Linked DNA regions of Homo sapiens: all the other regions are reported to be linked to region 1. Evidence: microRNA targets listed by miRTarBase, many of them from high-throughput screens and not tested one by one. Region 1 holds a microRNA gene; each other region holds the end of a gene's coding sequence.

Region 1 (7,120 bases):
GCCACTTTCCTGGACAGAGGAGGTCACAGGCTGTGCAGCACTGGCAGGGCCTCTCGGAGAGGCCCAGAGCAGACAGAGGAGTCCCACTGAACAGGCACAGGGCACAAGTAGGGGGGAGGGTGACAGGCGATTTTACTTTCTCTTTTAGACCTTTTTCAATGAGCATGTATTAGTTTTGTAATTGAAACTTCCTTTTAAGTTCTAAAACAAAGAGCATGCCAAAAGATGGCTATTAGTCAACCACACACACACAAATTTTTCCATGCAATTTGCGTATGAGCTGGATATCAGATGATATTACAGGATGATTATTAATTCTCTAAACATGGTAACAATACTGTAATCATGAAGGATGGTATCCGTTTTTAGGAGATGCAGTTATAGTAGTTAGTGGTGAATTGTCAGGATATCTGCAATTTACCGTCAAAGGATTTGGGGAAAAAGTATGTCTACATATACCTTATCCATACCTGTCTAAATAGAGAGAAAACAAAGTATGTTTCCAGATGAACAGATAGAGAAAGAAAAAGTGGTAAAATGAACCCTAATGTAAACTACGGACTTTGGGTGATGATGTGTCAATGTAGATTCATCAGTTTCAACAAATGTACCACTCTGGTGAGGATGTTGATAGTGGGGAGGATATGGGAAATCTCTGTGAACCTAAAACTGCTCTTAAAAAAATAAAGTCTATTTTAAAAAGTGGTTGCATTAATTCCCTTTGGCCTTGAGGTAGTACCAGCCACATACACAGCTTTCTCTCCTACTGGGCTGCAAGCTCCGAGGGCATTGCCATATCTGATTCTTATATATTAATTCAATCATTTACTCAGGTCACCATTAGGAGTCCCTGAGGGAGCTGACATGGTCCCAGCCACTGAGTGGGAGTAGAGGGCAGGGCCTGCCCTGGCTGGAGTGAAATCAGAGGACAGAAACAGAGCCCACTAAAGTCGGCCCGTCTGTCTGGTCGGCACCAGGGGGCTTCTTTGCAGGCATTTATCTCAAATCACCCACTAGTCCAGCCGCTGTCCCAAATGGAGGTCCCTTGGAAGGTAGGCGTAGAAAGTGACATGACCACCTGGGTCATGCTCCCAGCAAGGGCACTCTGTACCAGGAACTGAGGTCCACTTTGGGCTGGGGATGCTAGTTTGGATGGGAAAGAGGCACCCACTGCCCACTGATGGTTAGGTCGCATGCCAGCACTCCAATCTCTGGACTCAGGTGATGGCAGAGAAACAATTCTATGAGAAGAAGGAGCAAATGGTCCCTCTGATATGGCCCCCTGCCTCCAGACTGGCCGGAGAAGGCTCTGGAAATCTCCAGGTTGTCAGCTCAGTCAGTATGAATGGACAGGGGCTGAGGCTGGGGCTGGGGCTGGGGCTCAGGCTCCAGTGAGACCCCACCAGCCACTGGGCTGATTTGGAAAGAAAAGGAAGAAATAATAAAAGAAGGTCTTACCTCTTGTGACAGGAAAGGCATGATCTGTGCTAAAATTGTGTTCAGTCTCTTCGCAATCTCTGTCTGCAAAGGCAAGGAGACCACATGAAGCTCAGGCAAATAAATCAAGTCACTGAAATGTCATAGGCAAGTGGAAATGCAAACTCCCCCCAGACCACAGCCCCTCTCCACGGGGCTCCATCCTTTCTGCCCTCAGTCAGCCTCCTACCAGGAGGCTCTAGCTAAATCCACAGCATGAAGAAATCTCTTTCAACTCCCTTGCAGCCAGGCTGCCTACATTTTAGGGAGCTCCAATTTCCATCAGAGGTAGTCTACATGTCTGGTTCAGAATATAGTTTGCATCCTCTGGATGGAATCCCTAATTAAAGCAAAACGAAATAAAAATCACCCCCAACAACCCAGCAAAACCCACTGTAAGAGTGAAACACAGTTTAGTGAGAGAGGAATTGCTCTGCCCACTGGTGCCCAGTGCCAATAGGACATGAGCTCTCAGATAAATGGGACTAAGCTGATAAGCGGTCCTATGTGGCAAAGGGTTCCCTGGGACTAGCCTCTCCCTCACCAAGATCAATCCCTCCCCCACATATATGCTACCAGGCTAAAATCCTACCATTAAGCCTTCTTTCTTTTTTTTTCTTTCCCATTAAGACAGGGTCTCACTGTCACCCAGGCTGGTGTACAGTGGTATGATTTTGGCTCACTGCAGCCTCGACTTCCTGGGCTCAGGTGATTCTCCTGCCTCAGCCTCCCAAATATCTGTGACTATAGGTGCACTGCCACTCCCAGCTAATTTTTGTATTTTTGTAGAGACTGGGTTTCGCCACGTTGTCCAGGCTGGTTTCAAACTCCTGGGCTCAAGTGATCTGCCCACCTTGGCCTCCCAAAGGGCTGGGACTACAGACAGGAGCCACCATGCCCAGCCAACACTTCATTTTTTAGGATATAGCATTGCCTTGTCTAAGAAGCTGCTCAGAGATGTAATTCATTAGATCCCTAATCCCTCACAGAAGTCAATCTTAGAAAGGTAGATCAATTCTCTGCCTCATCTCCCAACACCCTAGAAAAGACTGCATTTAGAAAGTCAACAGTTTCCACCAGTATCCTATGTAAACTTTAGATCTCAGATCAAGAGTGGTGCTATACGGGTTAACTGAGTCCAGATAGAAAGGCCTAGAACCACTGACAGACGACTCTCAGAATTGCTTTTCTTATCTCATTCTGAATCCTGAGCCCGCCAGGACTGAGGTCCCAAAGCTGGCTTCAAAGCTTTCATCAGCACATAGCAATCTTTCAGAGACAAAACCATGACAACAGCCTTTAAAAATCTGTGATCATCTGCATGTCAAATGATTCTGGATGAGAAATCCTTGTGCACTTAAAATAAAAACAATCTGAAGGCGCATAAATAGACCCTGGACCTCGGGAGAATTCCTTGGGCTAACACCCTCCACCCCCTCCACCCTTGGCCACTAAAGAGGACGCCTCTGGTTTGTGGAAAGGCAGGCCATCAACTAAAGAGCCTTATGGGTTTTTGCAGGCCTGTGTCCTGGGCTGCCAGCCACGGTGGCAGGGCTCGCCAACCTACGGAGCCTGTCCGCTACAGTGGGGGTTCCTGGCAGGGAGAGGATCAGGAATCACTGCTGTCAGCTTTCTGCCTAGAACACTCTAGCTCCTCAGGAACAGAGTCAGTGTTTCCCAGCCAGCACCACTGTTGGCATTTGGGGAGAGACAATTCCTGTTATAAAGGACTGTCGCTCATATCCCAGGCCAACTGTGTCAACAATGGCCCCCACTTCCAAACTGCCCAGCTCAGACCCACTGGGACTCCACATTGACACATGTGTGGGGCACTCTAGCCAGGACACCATACATCAGGGTTTCTCAAACACCATGCTATTGACATCTGAGGTCAGATAATTCACTGCTGTGTGGAGCCCGTTCTGTGCACTGCAGGGCTTTTAAAAGCATCCCTGGCCTCTCCACCCACTAGACACCCGTCATTCATACTCTAAGGAACCCAGGAGGATTACTAAATAATCATTATATAAATTGTTAATCTAGTTAAGTGGGAAGAGCTCTCCCAAACAGGGTCCTTCCTCACTCTGCTTATTTTTTCCTCGCCTAAATCAACTGATAGTAGGAATGGGGAATGAAGCAAAAAAGTCCGGGTTGGATAGGGCAGGAGTTCTAGAAACAAGCATAGGCTGCAGCTCACTCCAAACCGGCAGAGTAACAAGTTCTCTCACCTTTGAGTTCATGCACCAAATAAGAATAGAAAGATATGTAAAAAACAAAAAGCAAACAAAAATAAACAAAAAAAACCAACCTTACTGTTTAGGAAGCTCACAGGTCCAAGGCCTGTTATCTTAAACAACAATAGAGCAGTGTCTGGCACACAGTAGCTGCTCCGTAAATGTTTGGCCCAAAGAATAGTATCACTGGCATCTCTGCATTTATTGAGACTTCATATTGCAGTGACCCCTTGCTGTGGATCTGGGCCTGCCCCAGCATGGGCAGCATCTGTGGGAGGGGCCGTGGTGGATGGAGTGTTGACATACACTTGGTGGCCAGTGGCCCAAGCCCTTCACCAACGGGGTGGGGTGGCACCTCCAAGCCAGGCCAATCGCAAGCCACCTAGATGGGTCCCTGGCCACTACTCCTCCCCACAGCCAGGAAGGCAGGGGCAAGGTCAGAACATCCCCAGTCATTCTGGCCTCCTCAGCAACTATTAACTCTCACAGTCTCTGGGAGAGCAGGGAGGCAGGGTGATTATAAAAGGGTTCTGGCTATGGCCTCCTTCCACTGGTAAACAGGCCAAGGGTCAGGGTCTCGGGAGTTGACAAAAAAGAAACGTAGCTGACCTTGCCCTTCCCCACACCCTTCAGCAAACACGTGGCCAAAGGCTTCCCACAGACAGGATCTTCCCATAGGGCTGGTCTGGAGCCCAGCTCACTCTGGTTATGAGGACAACGGATCTCCCAGGATTTATGTAGCCATCCGGGCCATCAGGTGACCACAGCTGGGTGGCTCAGGGCAAGTCCTCTCTCATTCTCACCCCTCCACCCTCCTAAAGTAGTTCCTGCCTCCCAACACCACAAACAAGCATCAACTGAGGGCTATCGCAACAATGCCACACAGATGCAGAACCTTCCACAAGCCTGGGGTAGTGGCATTCAGGCTGTCTTTCCTGAGGCCCATGTTCGACGAAGAGAGGCCTCTCTGCAAGGCAGGAAGGACTTTGGCACGTCACCAGACAGGACTGTGTAGGGTTGAGGCAGGCAGAGGGGAGGGGCTGGGCTTACGTTGGGAGAACCTCCTGGTTCACCGTAAAAGTTCTCCCAACGTAAACCCAGCCCCTCCCCTGGGAAAGGGACATGAAGCAAGCACATCCCATCCCTCCCAGCTGTCACTGTGCCATCATCTGCTAGTACCCTCTTGGGGTCTCCCCACAAAGTGGAAGCAGGGATTGGGCCTCCCCCATCTCTACAAAGGCTGCCCAACCCTGAGAATGGGCTGCGTGCACTCTGCAGAGTCAAAGCATGAACAGGAAAGCTGTTCGCTCAACATTTTAAAGAAATGTTTATTTTTTGGAGGGTGGCGCTTGGGGGAGGGGAAGTTCCTGGAAATGGAAAGCTGGCTTAACAGAAGCCCTCCTAACAACAGTAATGACCGCTGATATCACCCACCCAACTCGCCATGTGTGCATCCACAATAACCCCGCGGAGAAGGCGCTTGTCAACATCTCCACTTTTCAGATGGGGAAACTGATGCCCAGCCATTAAGTGATTTCACTAAATGACTTCCTACCAAGAAGCCAAATTTTGACATTTCAAGAGAGCTTAGAGAAATATTTTTGAAAGAAAAACCACCATTAAGGTTAATAATTGACAGCACTTCTGATTAGAACAGCTGTTAAAACAGCATTGGATCCAACTCAAACAAGCTCTAAACATCAGTTCCAAAAAAGGAAAAAAAAAAAAAAAAATCAAGTGTGACTTCAACAATTGGGACAGGTCACAAATCACAAACTGGAACTCGATCGTATGTTGGAAAACTCCTTTTGGCAACTTGGCGCAATCCGTTATCGATAAGGCGGCTGTAGTTTCCAGAGGCCGACCTCCATCCTTCCCTCCATCTCGGTCCCACAAAGCCACTGCTTTTGAGCCAGGTCTTCAGAAGCGAATCTGAGAGGTGGTGGGAGGTGGGAAGATGGCTCCCTTTGGAAAGCACTTTGGAAAAGGTGTTCAGGGAGGCTGGTGCCGCCTTTGAAAGTTTCTTTTCAAGTATGGTTCAAAGCAGGCGCTTTGTTGGTGGAAAAACATTGTTCCTCAGAAGGAACTAATCTACTAGATACAGACAGAGAAGCAGTTCAGAGAAATGGGGACAGAGGTCCTGCTACATCCGGAATCTGCACTACCAACTGGGCGCTGGGAGTAACATCTGCCCTGCATCTCTGTCAAGATTGTTAGGCAAATAAATGACAGAAAACAAGATAGTGGGGGGCAAGTGTAATTTCCCAAACAGCAATCTGTTCCATGCGCCTTAGTAGCTCCCATTTGCATGATCATCTCCTCATTAAAGCAGGACCTCTGAACATCTTGCTGTAAACCGAGGGTACTTGAGCATTCTAAAAGTCTATTTCTCTAACCACAGTCTAGTATTCACGTTTGCTGCTACTTCAGACTATCCTTGGCCCTTGACCCAAGACACTAAATTAAGGGAAACGGAGCCTGCTCTTGATCTGTACCCCCCAGCAACCTCCTGCTCCTGGGCTTGCAGCACCCAGCCAGTCCTTGCCCTTATTTTTAATTTAGGTGACTGTGTCCAACACACCGTCGAGAGCTACTTCCACCAGAGAGTCTGTCTGCTAGTTAGTTTTAAACTGCCCTGTCGTGTGTACCTGTGGACTCTGAATGCACAATTCCTTTTAACCTCAGCCAAATAAAGGCAAGGAGAAGAGAAAACTGCCCCTTCAAAGAGTGTGTTATGCTCCAACGCCACGCAGAGATGAGCTGGCTTCTACCTCCAATTCTGCCTCCATTTAGTTGTGTGGCTTTGGGCAAATCACTTCCCTTCTCTAGGCATTAATTTCGTTGTCTGCAAAATGAAGGGATTAACTAGATAACGTATAAGATCCAGGAGCCCTAATTTAGAGTTTTAGAACCCTAAATATTCCCGAATTGGCGTGCAGCTTATCATTTCCTCCATAAAACAGAGCATCACATGAATTTACAAAAGACCAGCAGAGAAGAGCCAAGCCACCTTGAGATGTGGATGGATGCTGGCTGGTTGCTGGGCAGCTGGCTGACCTGGGCTGGGTCCCAAGGACCAGTCTTCAGAGCACGAGCCATTCAAATCTGTCCATCAGCAAAACTGCGCTTCACTGTGGAAGAGCCTCTAGGCAAGAACAATGATATCATACTTCTAAGTGTCAAGCCCCTACTGTGCAGTTTCTGTGATTCAAAAGGGAAGACTGGTTGGTGAGGCTAAGACAACCAGGCCAGGGTTCTCCAAGTTGTTGCATTCAGCGGGAAGTAATTCCACGTCTGTGAGACAGGCAAGCGGCCATCCCATGCTACTAGGCTTCTAGTTACATTTGTGAAATGAGGATTTCTTCTTCGGAAAATCAGGGCAGTGTCATGCAAAGAGCATGGTACTGTGA
Region 2 (7,099 bases), not on the chromosome of region 1:
CTGTCAAACCTTTCAACAACCACTATGTGATAAAGAGAATGCAGTATAACGAGCTGTTAACAACTTTAGAATTTGGAATAAATCTATGGATGTCCACTGTAGAATCCTTTCAACTTTTTTTTTTTTTTTTTGAGACACAGTCTCACCCTGTCGCCCAGGCTGGAGTGCAATGGTGTGATCTTGGCTCACTGCAACCTCCGCCTCCCAGGTTCAAGGGATTCTCCTGCCTCAGCCTCCTGAGTAGCTGGGATTACAAGCACGCGCCACCACGCCCGGCTAATTTTGTATTTTTAGTAGAGACGGGGTTTCACCATGTTGGCCAGGCTGACCTCCTGATCCTCATGATCCACCTGATCCTCATGATCCTCCTGACCTCATGATCCACCCGCCTCGGCCTCCCAAAGTGCTGGGATTACAGGCTTGAGCCACAGCGCCCGGCCTCAACTTTTTGTATTCTGAAAATTTTCCTCACAATGTGGAGGAAGACGACATTCTGAAAAAATAAATCGCGCTTCACAAACCTTAAAAACTGATATACTGACTGGGCGCCGTGGCGGGCGCCTGTAATCCCAGCTATTCGGGAGGCTGAGGCAGGAGAATCGCTTGAACCCGGGAGGCGGAGGTTGCAGTGAGCCGAGATCGCGCCACTGCACTCCAGCCTGGGCAACAGACTGAGACTCCATTCCCCGACCCCGTCCCCCTAAAAAAGCTAACATATCAGCCACTTTCAGTTCTCTACAAATTTTAAAAGGAAAACTACCCGAACCAAAGTTATCTATCTACCTATAAAACTCTACGAACGTAAAAAAAAACATACTAGCAAATCAAGAAAAATCTGCAATCTTGTAACTCAAGTCTAACAGAAACTTCTTTGGCGCGTTTTCCTCAAGGCGTTGCAAAGCATCTTCAGCACAGAAGCGAGCTCCGAGTGGAAGAACTCTAAAATTAATCCCCAATTTTAATCAAGCAATTAACCAATTATCTCAGCACACCCGGATTCCTTGAGGCCCCCAACTCTGCATTCTGGGACCACTAGCGTTTGCCCCGGTATAAAAACCGATCCCGCGTCTAAGCAGCCGGTATTTCATCACCTACAACTGTAACATGACGGCACAATTTGAGCGTGGCTGCGAAATATGAAACCTCACCACGACCTCAAACAGAGGGGGGCAATTAAGGGCTTGTGTACAATCTGTCAGGTGAGCAGCCTAAAATAACCCTAAACACGGCACCCGGGTGGGAGGCAGGAGTGGGTCTGGTCAGGAGACGGCCTCCCTGAGGGGAAGAGGTCTGCGCCGAGGCAGCCTGCGCGCCCCGAACCCTAGACTCTCGGTCCGCCGGCGGGTGACAGAAAGCACTTGGAATTCTGGCCCTCCTGGAACTTCCGCCCGCGCCCTCGCCCTCGCCCGGCGCTGCCCCGGCCCCACGCCTGGCGCTGCCCCGGCCCCACACCCGGGTGACAGGGCCCAGCGAGAGGAAAGGATATTCTCGGCGCGGAGCTGCTCGATGGTCTCCTCGCACTGCCGAAGCCGCTCCCGTAGCTCCGCGTCGCCGACCCCATTTTCGTCCTCCTCGTCGCCGTCGTCGTCCTTGAAGCGAGTGTGAACGGGCTTCGGAATCGACTCCTCTGGGTGGTCGAACGGCTCGAAGAGCTCTAGATCGCCAAAATACACCTCTGCGGCCATTTTGGGCTGTGGAAAAGATTCGAGAAGAGGCGGAGCCGGCCACCAGGGCTTGGGGAAGAAGGTTGGAAGGCGGCACCACTCTCTAGAGCTCTGGCCGCACGGAGCCACCCGCTAGGGTTTTCTCCAGACGCAGGCCGCGAAAGCTGCACACGGGGCGGGGCCAGTCGCTAGAGACTACAACTCCCGGAATGCAGCGGGGCCTATCGGGCTTGCGATTGCCCGGAGGACGGCATGCTGGGACGTGTGGTTTCTAAGCGACTGGTACTCATTGTCTGCATTGCATCCTGGGATTGGTGCTTTTTGAAATGTGAAGAAAGCTGGAGTAGGTCAGAATGCGCTAAAGCAATCTGGGGGCAGGGCGGGGTGGCTCACACCTGTAATACCAACTACTCGGGAGGCAGAGGTGGGAGGATCACGTGAGCCCAGGAGTTGGAGACCACCCTGGGCAACAGAGCGAGACCCAGACACTACAAAAAAATATAAAAATTAGCTGGGCGATTGTAGTCCCAAGTACTCGGCAAGCTGAGGCGGGAGGGTTTGAGCCCAAGAGGTCGAGGCTGCATTGAGCCCAGATGGCGCCACTGCACACCAGCCTGGGAGACAAAGCAAGACCCTGTCTCAAAAAGAAAAAGAAAAACAAAAACCAGTATGGGATGTTCCTGTTAGGCAACTAAGGGTGAAAAATCAGAGCACGACGCATAGCTTCTCACAGATTCTGGTGTGCGTGCCACACCAGAGAATAAGGAACTCCATAGCCTGAAAGGGAACTGAATAAAAATAAACATAAAAGAGAATAAGAAACTCCAGCTTTGCTACAGAGATGACTGTTGTAGATTAGTTTATTGAGCTTGCTTCGTTTTTAATGTAAGATTAGCTAGACTCAACTATTTGTCTGTTGAGGCTTTCTGTCATTCAATCACATTATTTACTTACACCTTCGATGGGCCAGGCACTTGTCTAGGACCTGAGTATGGTTACAAGAGTAACCACAATAGAGTAATTCCTCCTCTCACGAAGGCTGTAGTCCACAAAAAGCAACAAAAACCCCATAATTATAAATGTTCCTGTTCTTGGGTCGAGATGGTTGTTGATGGATATTGATCACACAAAGAAATGTGGGCCGGGGGCGGTGGCTCACATCTGCAACCCCAGCACTTTGGGAGGCCGAGGCAGGTGGATCACGAGGTCAGAAATTCAAGACGAGCATGACCAACATGGAGAAACCCTGTCTCTACTAAAAATACAAAAATTAGCCAGGCGTAGTGGCACACGCCTGTAATCCCAGCTACTCAGGAGGTTGAGGAAGGAGAATCGCTTGAACCCGGGAGGCAGAGGTTGCAGTGAGCCGAAATCGTGCCACTGCACTCCAGCTTGGGCGACAGAGCAAGACTCTGTCTCAAAAAAAAAAAAAAAAAAAAAAAGGTGAAAAACACAGGAAGTTATGAATATTTAACAAACACCCTAGTCTGTGGGAGTCAGTAAAGTGAGGAAGTGAGACTTTAAGGATCGGCAAAGTTGGGGGTGGGAGGATGGAAGAGTGTCTTAGGTGTAAGGACCACCATGTTGAGTGAAAAGGCAGAGTGGAGCAAGATGAGGTTGGAACACTGCTAGGTCAGTGCTCAAAGGCCCTTAAGGAAGCCTCTTTCCGTTTACAACATTGGGAAGTCACTTACACATTTTAACATTTTTTTTTTCTTTTTGTGGACAACAGGATCTCCCTATATTGCCCAGGTAGGTCTTGAACTTCTGAGCTAAAGCTATCCTCCTGCCTCTGCCTCCCTAAATACTGGGATTACAGGAATGACCCACTGTGCCTGGCCATTTAAATTTTTTTTTTTTGAAATTTTATTTTTTGAGACAGAGTCTCACTGTGTCACCCAGGCTGGAGTGCAGTGGCATGATCTCGGCTCACTGCAACCTCCGCCTCCCAGGTTTACTTTCACTGAAAAATCTGCATGAGGCCTGGCGTGGTGGCTCACGCCTGTAATCCCAGCACTTTGGGAGGCCCAGGCGGGTGGATCATGAGGTCAGGAGTTCAAGACCAGCCTGGCCAACATGGTGTAACCCGGGAGTTCAAGACCAGCCTAGCTGACATAGTGAAACCCCGTCTCTACGAAAAATACAAAAATTAGCCGGGCGTGGTGGCGGGTGCCTGTAATTCCAATTACTCAGGAGGCTGAGGCAGGAAAATTGCTTGAACCCAGGAGACAAAGGTTGCAGTGAGCTAGGATCATGCAACTGCACTCCAGCCTGGGCAAAAGAGTCTCTCACAAAAAAAAAAAAAAGAAAAAAAGAAAAAAAAATTCTGCATGTAAGTGGACCCTAAAGTTCAAACCCATGTGTTCAAGGGACAACTGTAATTTCATCTTTTAATTATTTGCATTTGGCTACTCAAAAAAGAAATTGAAATAAAATACTTAGGCCAGGCACTGTGGCTTCACACCTGAATCCCAGGTAGCACTTTGGGAGGCTGAGATGATGCAGATCATTTGAGGCCAAGAGTGGGAGACCAGCCTGGCCAACAGCCTGAGAACCCCATCTCAGGTACATTGTCATGGGCCTTTGGTGCCAGCTACTCAGGGGAGTGAGGTGGGAAGATCACTTGGACCAATATACATATACACACATATTTTATTGGACAGTGCTGCTCTAGATGAGCAAAGTACAGGCTGTATCACTCATCATGTATGGTCAGCTCCTAAAATAACTGTAGACACACAGGAAGCTTTTGCGTCCACACTGCCTTAGAAGGTCATGAACATTTTTAATAAGATTGATTTAAAAAGGCAGAGCTTAATTGAAAAATGTTGATGATCACGAAATGAAGGATCCATAGTGTCATTTCCTTAGAAGGCTTAGATTTGTCACTGAAACACGGTGAAAAGCCATTTTGCCATAGAATTTCTGTGCTCTGGGAAAATGAAAGGTTTATTAAAGTACATTAAAAATCTTACAATCTGGCTAGGTGAAGTGGATCACACCTGTAACCCCATCACTTTGGGAGCCCTGAGGTGGGAGGATTGCTTGAGGCCAGGAATTCAAGACCAACCTGGGCAACGTAACAAGACCTTGTCTTTATAAAAAATTAAAAACAAGCTAGGTGTGTTGGTGAGCACCTGTGGTCCCAGGTACTCAAGAGGCTGAGGTGGGAGGACTGCTTGAGCCTGGGGGAGCCTGCTGCAATGCACTGCACTCCAGCCTAGGACAGAAAGCAAAAAAAAAGAAAACACCCCATTACTTCATTTTCATGTATAAAAAAAATACCTAATGAGCAAGTTGGCAAGACTTAATTCCAGCTTTTAAAATAAGGCTGTCAATCTTATTCCTGTAGTCTTCCCTGATTGTAATGTGCTCTCATTCTGTGATGTTTTCCAAAGGATTTTTCAAAGGAAAGCCAAACCTTATTACTTTGCTGTAACTGAAGTAAATTAACTTCAAGTTTTGCAGGCCCCCCCCACCCCTTGGCTCCAGATTTATGTTCAATCTAGTAACAAAACATTTTCTAGGCTGGCTGCAGTGGCTCACGCCTATAATCCCGGCACTTTGGGAGGCTGAGGAGGGTGGATCACCTGAGGTCAGGAGTTCAGGACCAGCCTGGCCAACATGGTAAAACCCCACCTCTACTAAAAATACAAAAATTAGCTGGGTGCGGTGGTACGCCTGTAATCCCAGTTACATGGGAGGTGGAGGTGGGAGAATTGCTTGAACCTGGGGGGCAGAGGCTCTGGCAGTGAGCCGAGATTGTGCCACTGCACCCAGTTTAGGCAACAGAGCAAGATCCTGTCTCAAAAAAACAAACAAAAAAAATTTCTAATATTTTAATATTTTATAGTCTATGCTGGAGAAGACTTCAAAGGGATAATGAGCAAAAAGCATGCAAAGAACTTGTTATAAGGCACTTTATTAAAATAAAAGTGCTTACATCCCTTTAATGCATTAATCTATCTCCTGAATAACACATGTAATATTTGACAAATACTGAATACCAAGTCTGTCCCTTATAATAGGAAAACATACTATTTTAGTAAGTTTTCTCCTTCCACCTTTTACATTTTTGCTCACCACGGTATTGACTGTAGTATAGTTAACTGGCCTTAAAAAGGGTGGTGGGGAGGGGATTTCTAGCTAGTGTTTTCTAACAGCAATTGCCAAATGCTACAGAAACTATAAAACAAATTCAAAGAAACATCCCAGGTAACTTAAATTAACACCAGTTTTGAGAAAACCATTTTTATTATCATTACCACCCAGCTTATCTGTGCTGGATTATGTACCAAATGGCCAGATCTTCTAAAGAACATCTACATAACATTTCTTTCATGTTTCAAGAGATGAAAATAACTGTACAAGGTTAAGTACAAAAGTACACAAGACAGCGGACACGAAAAAATCCATGTATGAGATTTTATCCCCACCTGCAGCTTTTATATATTTGAAAAGTAGAATTCATGAACTAAAAAATATTATCCTTCTATAGTCCTGTCAAGTTTAATGGAAGTGGGTTTAACCTGATTACAACACTAACACCAGTATCACTGATCTGATATTTACAAAAATTTGTATTTTTCAATAAATTAAAGTCAATGCAACACCCATGCAAGCTAGAGTGCTAGCTGTTTGGTGAACAAGGACGTGACATCAGAACAAGAAGTCTATAAGTCCCAAACTTTACAAGTGTGATCATTTTCAAACTGCATCCATTCCTCGCATTGAAGATGTGAAACCCAAACCCATTCCTCTTTGTGTGTGGGTTTGTGATCTTGCCATTTCATACTGAGCATCTAAATTTCGAAATACTTCTTCCTGCTGCTTCAGAGTCTTGTAACTTTCTTCATCAACTGAGCTACATCCAGCTTCATCTTCACTCTAAAAATCAGACATAAAACATTACAATGAATTCAGATGGAGATAAATATTCTCTCACTTGACACTATTTTTTATGTATTTTTTTTTTTTGAGATGGAGTCTTGCTCTGTTGTCCCGTCTGGAGTGCAGTGGTGCCATCTCGGCTCACTGCAACCTCTGCCTCCTGGGTTTAAGTAATTCTTATGCCTCAGCCTCCCAAATAGCTGGGATTAGAGGCACATGCCACCACGCCCAGCTAATTTTTGTATTTTCAGTAGAGACGGGGTTTCACCACATTGGTCAGGCTGGTCTCGAACTCCTGACCTCAGGGATCCCCCCTGCCGCCTGCCCCCCGGCCTCCCGAAGTGTTGGGATTACAGGTGTGAACTAGGCTGACACTATTAAATTATACTTTTGGCCGGGTGCAGTGTGGCTCACGCCTGTAATCCCAGCACTTTGGGAGGCTGAGACGGGTGGATCACCTGAGGTCAGGATTTCGAGACTAGCCTGGCCAACATGGTGAAACCCCGTCTATACTAAAAACAAAAAACAAACAAACAAAAATATAC
Region 3 (7,120 bases), not on the chromosome of region 1:
ACAAAAACGTATTTATTCTTTATTTATTTTATTTATTTATTTATTTTTTTTGAGACAGAGTCTCACTCTGTCGCCCAGGCTGGAGTGCAGTGGCGCCATCTCAGCTCACTGCAAGCTCAACCTCCCAGGTCCACGCCATTCTCCTGCCTCAGCCTCCCGAGTAGCTGGGACTACAGGTGCCCGCCACCATGCCCGGCTAATTTTTTTGTATTTTTAGTAGAGACGGGGTTTCACTGTGTTAGCCAGGATGGTTTCGATCTCCTGACCTCATGATCTGCCCGCCTCAGCCTCCCAAAGTGCTGGGATTACAGGCGTGAGCCACCGTGCCCAGCCACTATTCTTTATTATTATATTAACATTGGTTAATCTTCTGCATTTCTTTTATAAGATTTTTTAACATAATGTGCACGTTCAGTTTTAATGTGGCATTTTAATAATTGTACTTAGGAAGATCTCATGGATTACATGATTATTATAAATTTATCTTGTGTTTCTAACTGCTATACTTCTCTTTGCCCAGCCTACTCCTACAAAAAAAGAAATCAACTCCTTGGTTTTAAGTTTCTCAGCCTGAGCAACATAGTAAGACCCTATCTCTCTCTCTCCTTTTTTTTTTTTTTTTTTGAGATGGAATCTCGCTCTGTTGCCCAGGTTGGAGTGCAGTGGCACGGTCTCAGCTCACTGCAACCTCCACCTCCCACGTTCAAGCAATTCTCCTGCCTCAGCCTCCTGAGTAGCTGAGATTACAGGCGCCTGCCACTACGCTCAGCTAATTTTTTTTATATATATATTTTTTAGTAGAGACAGGGTTTCACCATGTTGGCCAGGCTGATCTCGAACTCCTGACCTTGTGAGCCACCACGCCTGGCCAGTAAGACCCTATCTCTATCAAAAAATAAAAATTAGCCAGGTGTGTTGGCACACACCTGTGGTCCTAGCTACTGGAGAGGCTGAGGCAGGAGGATTGCTTGAGCCCAGGAGGTTGAAGCTGTAATGAGCTGTGATTGTATCACTGCACTCCAGCGTGGGCAACAGAGTGAGACTCCATCTCAAAAAAAAAAAAAATTCTTTTGCTTATTAGAAGTGAATCCTTTTACTGTTCCTCTCCTTCTGAGCCAGGAGTAGCGTGTGTGATATAGCCAGAGGTTTTTCTGTCAGGTGCAACTATAGCTGTAGTAACTCTTCCCAGTGTTATCAATTCCATTTGAGTGTAGGGGCCATCAGAGGAAGGTTTGTGGCATTAGGCTGCTGGATTGAAATGCTTATGCTTAGCAGATTACCAGTGTTCCCTCTGTTCTCCCTTTGTGGTTTGCCGGCAGGATTTCCTTTCACCTTGTCTTCCCAGATTTGCCCGTAACTCCCACCCTGACAGAGCACAAGGCCAGTGATAGGCCTAGAGTCCTCAGCAAATTGAACAGAATGGGCCATCTTCCTCTTCTATCCAGGGAGTAGAAACTTACTTCCCTGTTAAGTTGTTTATCCTAAATTTTGTCTAGTCTTAATGGTTTGTGTTCCTGATTATAGTTTGAAAGCTGCCTTAATGAGAGTATGTGTATGCCTGTTTTCTACAGTTTAAGATAAAATCTTGTTGGCCTTTGAGTCAAAATTTGAGATTCCTGAAACCCCAAATTTGTGTTTGACTGTAACTCACACAGACACATTAAAAACACTGTTTTTTTGAAATCCAAACTTTAAAATAGGGTAAGTTTTGAAGGTGATTTTAAAACCAGGCACAGTGGCTTGCACCTATAATCTCAAAACTTTGGGAGGCTGAAGCGGGAGGATCGCTTGAGCCCAGGAGTTCAAGACCAGCCTGGGCAACATAGCAAGAGCACATCTCTACAAAAAAAAAAAAAAAAATACAAAAATTAGCCAGGCATGATGGCACACACCTGTAGTCCTAGCTACTCAGGAGGCTGAGGTGGTGAGATCACCTGAGCCCAAGAGTTTGAAGCTGCAGTGAGCTATGATCACCACTGTACTCCAGCCTGGACGACAGAGACAGACCCTGTCTCCAAAAACAGAAGTGATATTTTAAGTAAAATATTTACTATGCCATTAAATAGCCAGTTCTTCAATTACATAAAAAAATTCAACATGATTTAAAATCAACTGTTTAGGAAAGCATCTATGGTGTAAAGATATCCATGATGATAATGAGCTGAGTATATAGTTCATTCTTCAGTATAGGAAATTAAAATGTGAGTTTATCAGAATGAGTAACTTAAAGAGAAATTGCATATCTCTTTTCCTGCCTTTTTAAATGTAAGAATCTCTAGAAATATTTTTTGTTTAAAGTAGTGGTAGAGCTGTAAAGTGATTGTTTTTTAAATAATTATTTTTAGAAGTTGTATTTTTTGGGTTTTTTGTTTTTGTTTTTGAGACAGGGTCTCGCTTTGTCACCCAGGCAGGAATGCAGTGGTGCAATCATGGCTCACTTCAGCCTCAACCTCCTGGGCTCAACAGATCCTCCCACCTCAGCCTCCCAAGTAGCTAGGACTAGAGACATGTGCCACCATGTCCAGCTAATTTTTCTATTTTTTGTAGAGACGTGGTCTCACTATGTTGATCAGGCTGGTCTCAAACTCCTGGGCTCAAGTGATCCCCCCACTTCAGCCCCCTGAAGTGCTGGGATTACAGGCATGAGCCACTGTACCTGACTGGAAGTTGTATTTTTTTAAAACTCCTAAGTCCAGTGAGATTATTACATGCAGTATAGCTTATGTTAAACAAACATTACTGTCTTAGTCGGATGAGTTTTGGTCTCAAAACTCATGTAAGAATAAAACTACTTAGTCTGGGCACAATGGCTTGCCCCTGTAATCCCAACACTTTGGGAGGCCAAGATGGGCAGATTATTTGAGCTCAGGAATTCGAGACCAACCTGGGTAACATGGCGAAACCCCGTCTCTACAAAAAAATAACAAAAATTAGCCGGGCATGATGGTGGGCACCTGTGGTCCCAGCTATTCAGAAGGCTGAGGTAGGAGAATCACTTGACCCCGGGGGGGTGGAGGTTGCAGTGAGCCAGATCACGCCACTGCACTCCAGCTTGGGTGACAGAGTGAGACCCCATCTCATAAAAAGAATAAAACTACTTTTGTAACTGTGGAGAAATCTGTGCATCTCAGGAACTCTCCCTGATGGACTTTGAGTTACTCTATGATTTACATGTCTAGAAATCACTAGATTGGACACTTCCATTTACAGCTAGCATTCAGGGCGGTCACCTCAAGTTCCCAAATCTCCTTTGTCTCTGCACATTAATGAGCCAAAAATCCAATTACTACTATAAACGAATTGATACTCACTGTAAATATTTGAAGCCAGAATGTGTTCAGACTTTTCTCAGAACATTTTCATGTCTCAGTTAAGCATCAAAGTAGAAAAGGAAAAAAAAATTTACTGGGTTTTTGTGTGTGTGTGTGTGTGGTTTTTTGTTTGTTTGTTTTGCCCCCGGAATAACCTCTGGTGATTTTTGAACACATGGCTCTTGGGCAATGTACTGTGAATTGCTTTTACAGCTCTAACTCAGGAACAAAACATGCTATGAGATTAAAGCCTTGGAAGGATTACGTGAACTTACTTTAAACTTCATTTTGGACACTGAAGTAATTACTATGTGAAGAAAAAAAGGAGTCTTTAAGCAGTCTCTAACAAAGTGGCAAGTTACTATTAATGGTTGATTTTATTCAGCTGTTTTTGTTTGGTTATCTGAGAAGAGAATATCAGTACCATGGAAGTAGAAATAGACAAGAAGTTTATAGCTCCAAAGTGCTTATGATCTCTTTGGGCAGATAGTACACGCTTTTTTTTTTAATCATAATATATGTACTTATTACAGAATATAGTCACCATCATTTGTCTACTGACAAGATTACATGAAAGAAAAGAAATTAACATTAAGAAATGCTTATCTTTAAATGTTCACTTAAATATTAGAAAAAATTGGGGTGATTTACTTAACTATGCACATATACATACATACATACATATATATATATATATATATATATATTTTTTTTTTTTTTTTTTTTTTTTTTTTTTTTTGAGACAGAGTCTCACTCTGTCGCCCAGGCTGGAGTGCAATGGCATGATCTTGGCTCACTGCAACCTCCGCCTCCTGAGTTCAAGTGATTCTCCTGCCTCAGCCTCCCGAGTTCAAGTGATTCTTCTGCCTCAGCCTCCCAAGTAGCTGGGACTACAGGCACACACCACCACGCCCAGCTAATTTTTGTATTTTTAGTAGAGGTGGGTTTCGCCATGTTGGCCAGGCTAGTCTCGAACTCCTGACCTCAGGTGATCTGCCCACCTCGGCCTCCCAGAGTGCTGGGATTACAGGCATGAGCCACCGCACCCAGCCCACTTCAATATTTTCATCAGTAAATTAGTATACTTTAGAGTTGTGGTGATTAAAATAATATATGTAAAGCATATAAGTAGAATGCTTGGCAAACAGCAAGTGCTTACTAAGCGTTAGCTACTCATAATAGTAACAGCTGATTTAATAATAGGATCTGTAAATAAGATAGTATTTTCTGCTCTACAAATGAAGAAATTAACACGTACAGAGGATAAGTTAATTTGCCTAAGATTGTCCAGCTAAATAAAAAGTAGAGCCAGATTGAACCCAAGAAGTATAACTTCAGAGATCAATCTCTTAACTGCAATACTATTACACTCCCTTATTATTCATTCATTTATTTCACAAAAAATTAACTGCCAGGTACTGTTTGTCACTAATAACATTATTTATATTGAATACAGAAGAAAATATGCACAATGTGATGAAGATGGGCATATAATGACATAGCTTTTTACTTTGACAAAGCCTAATCCAAATATTTAAGCATTTTTATAAGTATCATCTGCTTTAAAAATATAGTCAATGAATATTGCTTCTCCCCAATAACATGAGCCAGATAATTTCAAATAAATAATATGTTTATAAAACCTTGGATTTTTTTCACTGTATTATTCATGCATTTAGGTAAGATGTGAATGAGGATATTTCTTATTTATTTTTTTACTTATTTTTATTTTTTTGTTTTGTTTTATGAGACAGAGTCTCGCTCTGCCTCCCAGGCTGTAGTGCAGTGGCACGATCTCCGCTCACTGCAACCTCCGTCCCGGGCTCAAGCGATTCTCCTGCCTCAGCCTCCCGAGTAGCTGGGATTACAGGCGCCCACCACCATGTCCAGCTGATTTTTGTATTTTTAGTAGAGACAGGGTTTCACCATGTTGCCCAGGCTGGTCTTGAACTCCTGACCTCAAAATGATCCACCCACCTCAGCCTCCCAAAGTGCTGGGATTACAGGCGTAAGCCACTGTGCCCAGCTACTTATTTTTAAAGATTTTAAAATTACCAATAAACACTAGCCATAGATTGACCCTTGTATTCTAACTACCAGAAAGCAGACAAGTCATAAACCATTTGCTTCTTTATCCTAGTCATGAAATAACGTGTTCTGAACAGAAGCACTGACAGTTGAGTTTAAACAGAAAACAGCCTGTTAGTTTCATATGAGTGGGATCCTTTCAATATGCTTAATTTTTGCTTCTGAAAGTTTCTGCCATCTCAACGTTCAGTATAACTGTTTTTTGAGTTTTATGAATATATGTTTATTTATTTTTAAAAACCAAAGAGATTTTCTTGGTGATTATTGTCAACCAAGCTGTGACATGTTAATGATGTAGTTTAGTGTCCCTAATAAAGTCACATGAATGCTTTTCTTAATATTGTGGGGTTTTCCATTCAAAAGTCAACCATATGATTGCATATGTGCTGAATTAGACTTTGTAAAGAGATTATATAGTGTCTTCTTGAATGTTTTATCTAATAAAAGAAATATAATGGGGTCTGTGCTACTTCTGGCCGAAGCAAGACAGGTGAGAATGTTTTTTGTTTCTATTAAATAATTCAATTGCTGACAGTTATCTCTTTGGTGTAGAACATAAAAAATGGGTTTAAAAATACTATAAGGAAGGAAGCAAACTATTAGTAGAATCTGGATGACCAAAAGATGTCTTTTCACAGAACTGTAAGTCAAATCTTTCTCCATAATGGACGTACAGGTTCTTATTTTTCTCAGATGGCTTACAAAAGAGTAGTATGATGTTAGTACTACTAAAAAGGAAAATCCAATAAATGTGGTTCCAATGAGACCTGCAATCTGAGAGATCATGGCTCCTAGTTCCATCTGCCGATTGTAGCATAGGCTCTCTTCTCCTTCTGTAGCCTCTATGACTGAGTAGTATACGGTAACTGGAATGATTATGCCCAGTACAACTCCCCATATGTAAATGCATAGTTTTCTAGCAAAGTTGGGCTGGCGAAATTTTTTCAGTAAATGGCCATAAAATATTTTCTCATAGCATGAAGTAGTCTCTTGCGAGGAATCCTTTTGCATTAAGGTAGCATAGCGGCTTATGGCAATCCAACTTAAAATTAAGAGACTGACAAACATACTTGCATGCATGGATAGAGTTCCCAGAAAATTGACCACTCTGCATTGAGCAGATTGATATTCCCATTGGAAACCTTTCAGGAAATAGATACTCATGAAAGGCATGGCACTGCACACAAGTAAGTTTGCAGTCACAAGGTGTGACAGGTAGATGTGCGTTGATGTTTTTTTACCTATTTTTGTTAAAAATATCCATTGAGAGAGAGTGTTTCCAAAAACACCAACAATACAAAGGAGGATGTAAATGATTGGTAAAGCCATGGAAGAGATCATAGATGGTTGAATACATGTTGTATTGTTGTTCATTTATGTCAGGTTTTCTTGAATTTTGTCACAGGAGCTAGAATAGAATTGCAGATATTTAATATTAAAATTATTTTTGGTACAGTATTTAAGCTGAATAGTTTTTAAAAAAGAAAAACATTGAATTAAATAAAATAGTAACAAAAATGTATTGGATGGAACGGGAAAGTATAGATGGCTTCTTACCTTTTCTAATCACGATTGTCCGGTTGAAATAAAGACAAAAAGTTACTTATTGTGATGGATAATGCCTTTGTCTGAAAAACAAAATTTGATGTGAATAGTTACATGCCTGGGATTTATAATTTTACTTAGAGAAATGTATAGTTCTTAGATTGTAAAACAATTTG
Region 4 (7,120 bases), not on the chromosome of region 1:
GACTTGTTTATCGTTGCAAAGAGGGGCCGGAGGCGAAGGAGGCGGCGAGGCTGTGCGGCGGGTCGGAGCGACGCCGAGGTCTGACGTGTCCGCGTCCCTGCGGCCCCACTCCCGGCCGCCGTGACCTCCCCTTGCACGGGGCGGACACGAGCAATGTCACGGGCCCCGCCGCGCGCCGCGAGCACTCACCAGGGTGAGGGCTGCCCGGGTGGGCTGCAGCTTCCTCTTGCTCACAGCCCGGACAGTTGCCCGGACTAAGGAAGCCGACATCTTCGCCGTCCCGGCGCCCCGGTGCCTCGGGCCGAAGGTCGGCCGCCTCAGCTTCTCTCCATGGACACGGCGGGCGCATTGACGCCACAAGCTTCGGCGCACGGCGCCCTCAGTCCTAGCCCCGCCCCCCGCCGCCACCATTGGGTGAGTTGCATGAGTGACGAGCCGGGGGCGGGGCAAGCCGCTCGGGGCGGGGTTTTGCCGCTCAACGCCGGGGGTCTAGCAGCTGGGTTGCGCACGGTCTCCGGCAGTGGGGTTACCACGCTGCAGGGCGCAGGGCCCGGGAGGAATGTCTTCACCGCCGAGGACGGAGTCGGCGTGACGTCGGGGAGCGGGCGGGAGGGGGCGAGGAATGACCTCAGACCTGCTGACTCCGGATGCACGTAGCTTCACCACCTGCCCCCGGGGCAAGGTGCAGCGTCACCCCCTGCTTTAATACTCACCGTGACAAACACCATCATAGGCGGTGACACTTAAGGACGCATAAGTCAACCCTGCACTGGGAGCTTATGCTCTCAAATGCAGAGTGATCGTTCCGATGCCCAGACATCTACATCCATTTTCATTCTTCTTTTGTGGTCCAATTAGGCTGTTCTTAAGAGCATGGCGTTACCGCAGAGTTGTATAATCGCCACCCTCCACCCTTCTCCCCAGCGTGCTGTACTGCTGGGGATGCTGAAGGGTGGTGACTAATGCAGTTTTCATTCTGGTGCTGAACTGGGAACCAACCCTACTTGAAAATGTGACTGGGCAGCAGTGTGAATAGTCACATTTATAGCGAGCAACAATTACTCGATTTAAAACGTGTTGTCAGACCTTGTCCTGGCTGCTCAGGGGCTTAATTCTGCCTTTTGATGCAGTATTCCTGAGCACCAGACACTGCACAGGCGCGGTACCCAGGCATACACAGGAAGCCAGGTAAAGAGGGGCCAGGGAAGAATGAGATACTGGCAGGACAGGGCTAGCAGATGAAGAGAGGAGGACATCAAGACAGGTGGCATTTGTCATTGAAGTGCTAGAAGTGAAGGAAAAAGGGCAGGAGGGGTCTATGAAGCAGTCCTGGGGAGGACAGATTCGCAGTGTTTGAATGTGGGAAGAACTAATCAGTGAAACATTTTTTAAAGCCAAGTTTATCTTCGATCTCCTGCAGTTTCTGAAAGGATAGTTCAAAATTCCATCAAGTAGTTCTGACTTCCTGCTACAGAAATGCAATCGCATTGACAATAAGAGGACGCTTTTTTTTTTCCCCTAAGCCTTATCTGCACATAAACTGGGGGCCGGGCGCGTGGCTCACGCCTGTAATCCCAGCACTTTGGGAGGCCGAGGCGGGGAGATCACCTGAGGTCAGGAGTTCGAGACCAGGTTGGCCAACATGGTGAGACCCCATCTCTGCTAAAAATACAAAAATTAGCCGGGTGTGGTGGTGCACACCTGTTATCCTAGCTACTCAGGAGGCTGAGGCAGGAGAATCGCTTGAACCTGGGAGGCGGAGGTTGCAGTGAGCTGAGATCGTGCCACTGCACTCCCAGCCTGGGCAACGGAGTGAGACTCTGTCTCAAAAAAAAAAAGAAAGAACGGAAGATAGGAAGAGAGAGACAGACAGACAGATAGAAAGAAGAAAGAAAGAGAGAGAAAGAAAGAAAATAAAAGAAACTGGGGGCCGGGCGCAGTGGCTCACACGTGTAATCCCAGCACTTTGGGAGGCCGGAGGCCGGCAGATTACTTGAGATAAGGAGTTCTAGACCAGCCTGGCCAACATGGTGAAACCCCGTCTCTACTAAAAATACAAAAATTAGCCGGGCGTGTTTGCGGGCACCTGTAATCCCAGCTACCCAGGAGGCGGAGGTTGCAGTGAGCCAAGATTGCGCCACTGCACCCCAGCCTGGGTGACAGAGCGAGACTGCATCTCGAAAGAAAGAAACTGAAAAAGTGATGGGAGGGAGGAAGGGAGGGAGGGAGGGACATAGAGAGGTGGTGGTGTGGTGGGTTTGTTTCTTGGCCTTCATCTTTGACTACCTGGGGGTTTGGGATCTCATATCCTCCCTCCTACAGATATTGTGAAGATTAAATGAGTTAATACAGGAGAAGCCCTTAGAGGGGTGCAAGGCACACAGCCTCACTCAAATGGTAATTGTTAATGAGTATTTAAAGATGCCATGTATTGTGAAACTACTATAATGGTGGATAGATATCATTATGCGTTTGTCAAAACCCACACAATGTACACCACCAAGAGTGAACCCTAAGGTAAACTATGGGCACTGAGAGCTAATGATGTGTCCATGTAGGTTTAAGATTGTAACAAGTGTACCACTGTGGTGCAGAGTGACAGTGAGGCACATGTGGAAACAAGGGATATATGCAGTTCTGTTTTTCTGCTTAACTTTGCTGTGAACCTAAAACAGCCCTAAAATTAAAATTTAATAAAAATAAAAGATGCTGTCATTTTTTTTTCAGTTATTGACACATTACACAGTTGTGCAGCACTTTACAAGATTCAGAAAACTCCATGAGCATATTATATTATCTCATACTAGCCTCACAACTTTGAACTGAGTAGGGCAGAAGCACTGGCATGGCAGTTTTACAGATGCTGAAACTCAAGGATTTTAGTAGAGAGCATTAGACACTATTGAAAACATCTAGTCCTCAATTTTCTGATTCAGGATCCTGTGTATGTTTAACAGACTTCTTTCCTCTATTTAATACCCACTATTTAACAAAAACAAACAAAAAAGAAAACCCCACTATTCAGTTTTTAACTTGGTTAGTTGTTTTGCACATAAGCATTAAGTCACATAATCTACTTGTTAGTTTCTAATATCACTTGAAACTGGCACAAGTCCCTGAAATAATGTTATGTTAGAATAAATAATTTTCACGATTATTTAAGCAGTATGTGAGCTTATCTCAGAGCAGCAGCTGTCCAGTGGTGTCAAAATGAGGTGGGTATGGGAAGTGTCAAAAGAGTTACAAGCTGTAACCACTTTTAGATTTCCACTAATATGTGACAGAACTTGCAATAGGGAACTGTTTCACCCCGCACTTCAGGCATTAGTTTCATAGTTCTAGACATTTAAAGAAGTGTTTTCCTGGTAAGACCTCACTTGATTATCACAACTGTGTGGAAAGCCAAGAATGGTTTCCATTTTATAGGAATGGAAACTGAACTGCCTGAGATTAGGGGACTGCCACACAGCTGGAAAACGAGGTGGGCCAGACCTTGTCTAAGTCTAGAGTTCCATTCAGTGGAAAGTCTATGTAGTTCTTGACTGCTGCTGTCCAAATATGCCTGCTTCCAAAGAAAAAACTACTGAGGGCTTTACAGTTTTACAGGGGTTTGATAAATTCTGTTTTCAACGTGTGTGTGTATATTTTTGCTTGTAACACTGAACTCTATTGATGTATTTATCCAGGATCTTTTCCACTCAGGAAAGATTTAAAAGTAGAAGCCATTTGTCAAACATATTTCAAGAAGAAAAATACACTGAAGTTATCTAAGAACATTTAAAAACATTTTTGCACACTGCTGATCCTGCACACATTGAGCAAGAGTTTTGTTGTTGTTGTTGTTGTTTGAGATGGAGTCTTGCTCTGTCGCCGAGGCTGGAGTGCAGTGGTGCAATCTTGGCTCATTGCAACCTCCGTCTCCTGGGTTCAAGTGATTCTCCTGCCTCAGCCTTCTGAGTAGCTGGGATTACAGATGCCCATTACCAAGCCCAGCTAATTTTTGTATTTTTAGTAGAGACGGGGTTTTGCCATGTTGGCCAGGCTGGTCTCGAACTCCTGACCTCAAGCGATCTGCCCGCCTCGGCCTCCCAAAGTGCTGGGATTACAGGGGTGAGCCACTGCACCCAGCCAAGCAAGAGTTTTAAACATCATAGATTGGGGCCACTGGACCACTGCTATACAAAAGAGATTTCATATTTTTGTTCCTGAGAGAAGGTGGCAAGGAGAACCTTGGTAATGGGGCATTTGTACAGCTTAAGATAGATAAGCCGGCTGCACTTGAAAGATAGCTAGGCCAATGGACTTAGCAAAGAGCAGACGTTTTGGCATCCCAGCTGGGGCAGCAAGATGGGGCTGCGACCACATCCAGGTAAAGAATCAAGGGCAATCCATTATCCAGGCCTGCTGGCAAATACTGCTCATTGTCCCATGGATCCAGTGTGAGGTATTGAAAATCAAACAAAAGACCCAGTACTTTGGGCAGAAGCTACCTTAAGGATCAGATTAAAATGTAGGAAACTTTTAACATCCTTAAAGGGATACAAGAAAATATGGCTCCTATGAAAAGGAAGAGAATATAAGTAAACTAAAGAAATGAGAGGTAAAGGAAGGTCAGTGAGGCAAATTCCAGAAAATTAGAAGTGCAATGAGAAAATCCATATTAGAAACAGGAAGCACCAGAATGACAGTAAAAATTAAGCCAGTCATGTAGAGATTAAACTTGAAGTTTTCCTAGCATGAAAAGTCACTGGATAGATGTATTTCTATATTGAGGTAATTTTCTTTCTGAATTACAGGGATAAAATTAAAAAACAGAAGCACCCAGGCAGAAAAACAAAACCTACAAGAGAACAAAAATCAGCCTGGTCTTAGACTTGTCTTCTGCTATAATGCTAGAAAACAACAGAACAGCATCAATGGGCTTTTCAAAGAAAAGTGTGACAAGCATTGTAAGCCTAGTCGACTTTCATGCATGAGTTAGAGAGAAGAAACCAGAAGGGGGCAGCTGAGGACGGTCACGTAGAGCAGCATCAGCCCAGGTTGCGTCATTCATTAGTTTGCGTTCAAAATGAGTAGGGAATGATCACTAATTCTTTCTACCATGGCCTCCAAATTCTGAAGTCTTTAATTTTGATATGATTCGTCTTTAGCTAGACTGTCTTCAAATAATTGTTTAAAAAAGAAGGGCACAGGGATGTGCGTCTTCTGAGTCCTCAAACATCCAGAATGTTCGTCCAGCAAGCACCCCCTGAGCCTCCCTGCCTACAAATTCCCCGCCCCCCCACCCCCATCTGTGCCTTTTATAATAACAAATTTATACGTTCCCAGAGCCTGGAACACACTGGATGTTAACACACACCAATGATTGCAAGGGCACAAGTCAAAGGGAAGTCTGTGTACACTATTTTAGGGGAGTATATTTGTCCTTTCTTCTTTTTTGTTAAACGCCTCTTACTATCATTCCCAATGTTCTCACTCCTTGATCTTTTTTTTTTTTCCCCAGGAAATTTAGGAATCTTTCACTAGAAAATAATGTAGATAAAATTACAGGTTGAAATTCTGATTTTATTTCAAAATGATAAATAAACCGAGGCATAGTTCTGACCAGGTACTATGTCTGCAGGGCTTTTGAAATTAAAGAAACAGTCCAGGAGGGCTCCAGTCAGACCCAGAATGACACCAGCCACACTTGTGACTGGCAGAGATAACCTCTTTGATCTTCAGCAATTTTAAAAGTTCTTCATCCTAATTTCTGAGTATCATAAAAAGTAAAAAGTACTTTCATTTTATTTTTCCTTTGAAAATGTTTTTAGTGGCAAACAGGACTACTTGTTTTCCTTACTTCATTTTTATAAGCATAGTAGTTATATGTCAATTTACTTAAAATTAGAGAGGGAAACCCCAGAGACCTGAGTGGCACTGCCCATCCACTGAAGGCCCACATAAATAGGTACTCATGTTCATGTTATCACGTCTACAAATAGCAATAAAATGATGTCCGTAAATCGGAAGTACAGCAGTAGCAGTTCATACATATCTGATATGCTTTCACACCAGGATTCAGTAAACAACAATAAATATAATTTCCCCTCTTCAAAACAAAAAATGGATTTATACGGAAAAAGGGTTAATTTACTTGGGGTTTATCAGCACACCATTTTTAATGTGCTTTGAAAGAATTAAAAACCATGAAACTGTATTCACTGAATACCGGTCCATAGTTATATTTTTTCTTTTAACGTGGCTTAAATACATACATCATGTCTTTCTATTAAAATCCTTAAATCTATGGGGATGTGTGGTAGATAAGACTATATTAAAAATTTTTCCTCATTAACAATTTCATTAAATTAAAAAAAAATCTGACATTTCCCTTAAATGTTAAGTTGAAGCCTGATCTACACTGCTGTGTCCTGTGAAATGAACCTAATTTTCCGAGTGAATAGGAACGCCTGAGTGGCCATTTAGAGTGCTGCATTTTCCTTCCCTCATGATTCCTGCTGGGTCCTCTTCGCTGAGGCTTTTCCCTGAGTCATATATTTACTGGAAAGGCTACCTAGAGGAGGGGAAGAAACAAAACCCAATATAAATGAAACAAGCCTCGCTTTATGACAAAAGCCATAAAATTACTTCTTATTAAGTAGTCACAAAAACTTCATACTAGAATTGGTCACTTGTTTTGAATCAAGTAATAAGACTTGATATTGAAAAGTATATATGCACATGATTAATTAAATATAAGCTTAGTCAAAATTCTTTCTGAATGCAGACAGGTTCCTAGAGTGATCTCATTTTAATACATTTACATATTCACTATTTCCATGTTGGTACAGAGCACCAGACGAACTTAAGGTTCTGCCTTGTATAATTCAGTATCTTCATTTGCAGCCAAACATAATAGATTGCAAAGAATTATCTGGCCAGAAATAAATATCTTAGATCATTACTCTGCAGATACGAAGCTGTGGATGGTAATCATTGTAGCAATAACTTATTGATATAAAAGGAAAAAGGGAAATTTATTATATTTACAGGTGGAGGACACAAATGAGGATTACTGATTAAAACCAATACCACAGAATAGTTACTAAATTTTGTTCTGGAGTCTGAACAAATAGAT

Evidence for each region. The annotated mature microRNA hsa-miR-629-5p reads UGGGUUUACGUUGGGAGAACU and lies in region 1 at 4,790-4,810, opposite strand. An mRNA with a match to its seed (bases 2 to 7 or 8) in the 3' UTR can be bound and repressed. Matches are read on the target gene's strand: a 7mer-m8 pairs with bases 2 to 8, a 7mer-A1 pairs with bases 2 to 7 and ends in A, and an 8mer does both.
Region 2: miRTarBase lists RSRC2 as a target of hsa-miR-629-5p. Seed matches in the 3' UTR shown: 8mer at 6,184-6,191.
Region 3: miRTarBase lists GPR82 as a target of hsa-miR-629-5p. Seed matches in the 3' UTR shown: 7mer-A1 at 4,253-4,259.
Region 4: miRTarBase lists TUT7 as a target of hsa-miR-629-5p. Seed matches in the 3' UTR shown: 7mer-m8 at 6,140-6,146.

Annotation. Positions count from the first base shown.
Region 1 is chr15:70,074,638-70,081,757 of GRCh38, forward strand. It overlaps MIR629 (microRNA 629), which reads right to left and starts at 4,831; the gene lies at 4,735-4,831. TLE3 (TLE family member 3, transcriptional corepressor) reads right to left here. Exons shown (of 20, transcript NM_001105192.3): 5 at 1,459-1,521. RefSeq lists enhancers at 3,682-4,288, 4,289-4,895.
Region 2 is chr12:122,499,156-122,506,254 of GRCh38, forward strand. RSRC2 (arginine and serine rich coiled-coil 2) reads right to left here. Exons shown (of 10, transcript NM_023012.6): 10 at 4,299-6,551. The coding sequence ends at 6,372. It overlaps ZCCHC8 (zinc finger CCHC-type containing 8), which reads right to left and starts at 1,777. Exons shown (of 14, transcript NM_017612.5): 1 at 1,487-1,777. The coding sequence starts at 1,685. RefSeq lists enhancers at 745-1,436, 1,437-2,130, 1,626-1,705, 1,906-1,965, 2,016-2,195 and 1 more and silencers at 1,336-1,485, 4,914-5,114.
Region 3 is chrX:41,726,680-41,733,799 of GRCh38, reverse strand. It overlaps GPR82 (G protein-coupled receptor 82), which reads right to left. Exons shown (of 3, transcript NM_080817.5): 2 at 6,957-7,027; 3 at 3,670-6,807. The coding sequence starts at 6,773. The coding sequence ends at 5,763. All of the region lies in intron 5 of CASK (calcium/calmodulin dependent serine protein kinase), which reads left to right. Among named protein-coding and RNA genes, the nearest start is that of GPR82, 6.1 kb to the right of the region's middle.
Region 4 is chr9:86,282,189-86,289,308 of GRCh38, forward strand. TUT7 (terminal uridylyl transferase 7) reads right to left here. Exons shown (of 27, transcript NM_024617.4): 27 at 5,545-6,556. The coding sequence ends at 6,489. It overlaps ISCA1 (iron-sulfur cluster assembly 1), which reads right to left and starts at 350. Exons shown (of 4, transcript NM_030940.4): 1 at 190-350. The coding sequence starts at 270. RefSeq lists a silencer at 1-30 and enhancers at 201-350, 471-750.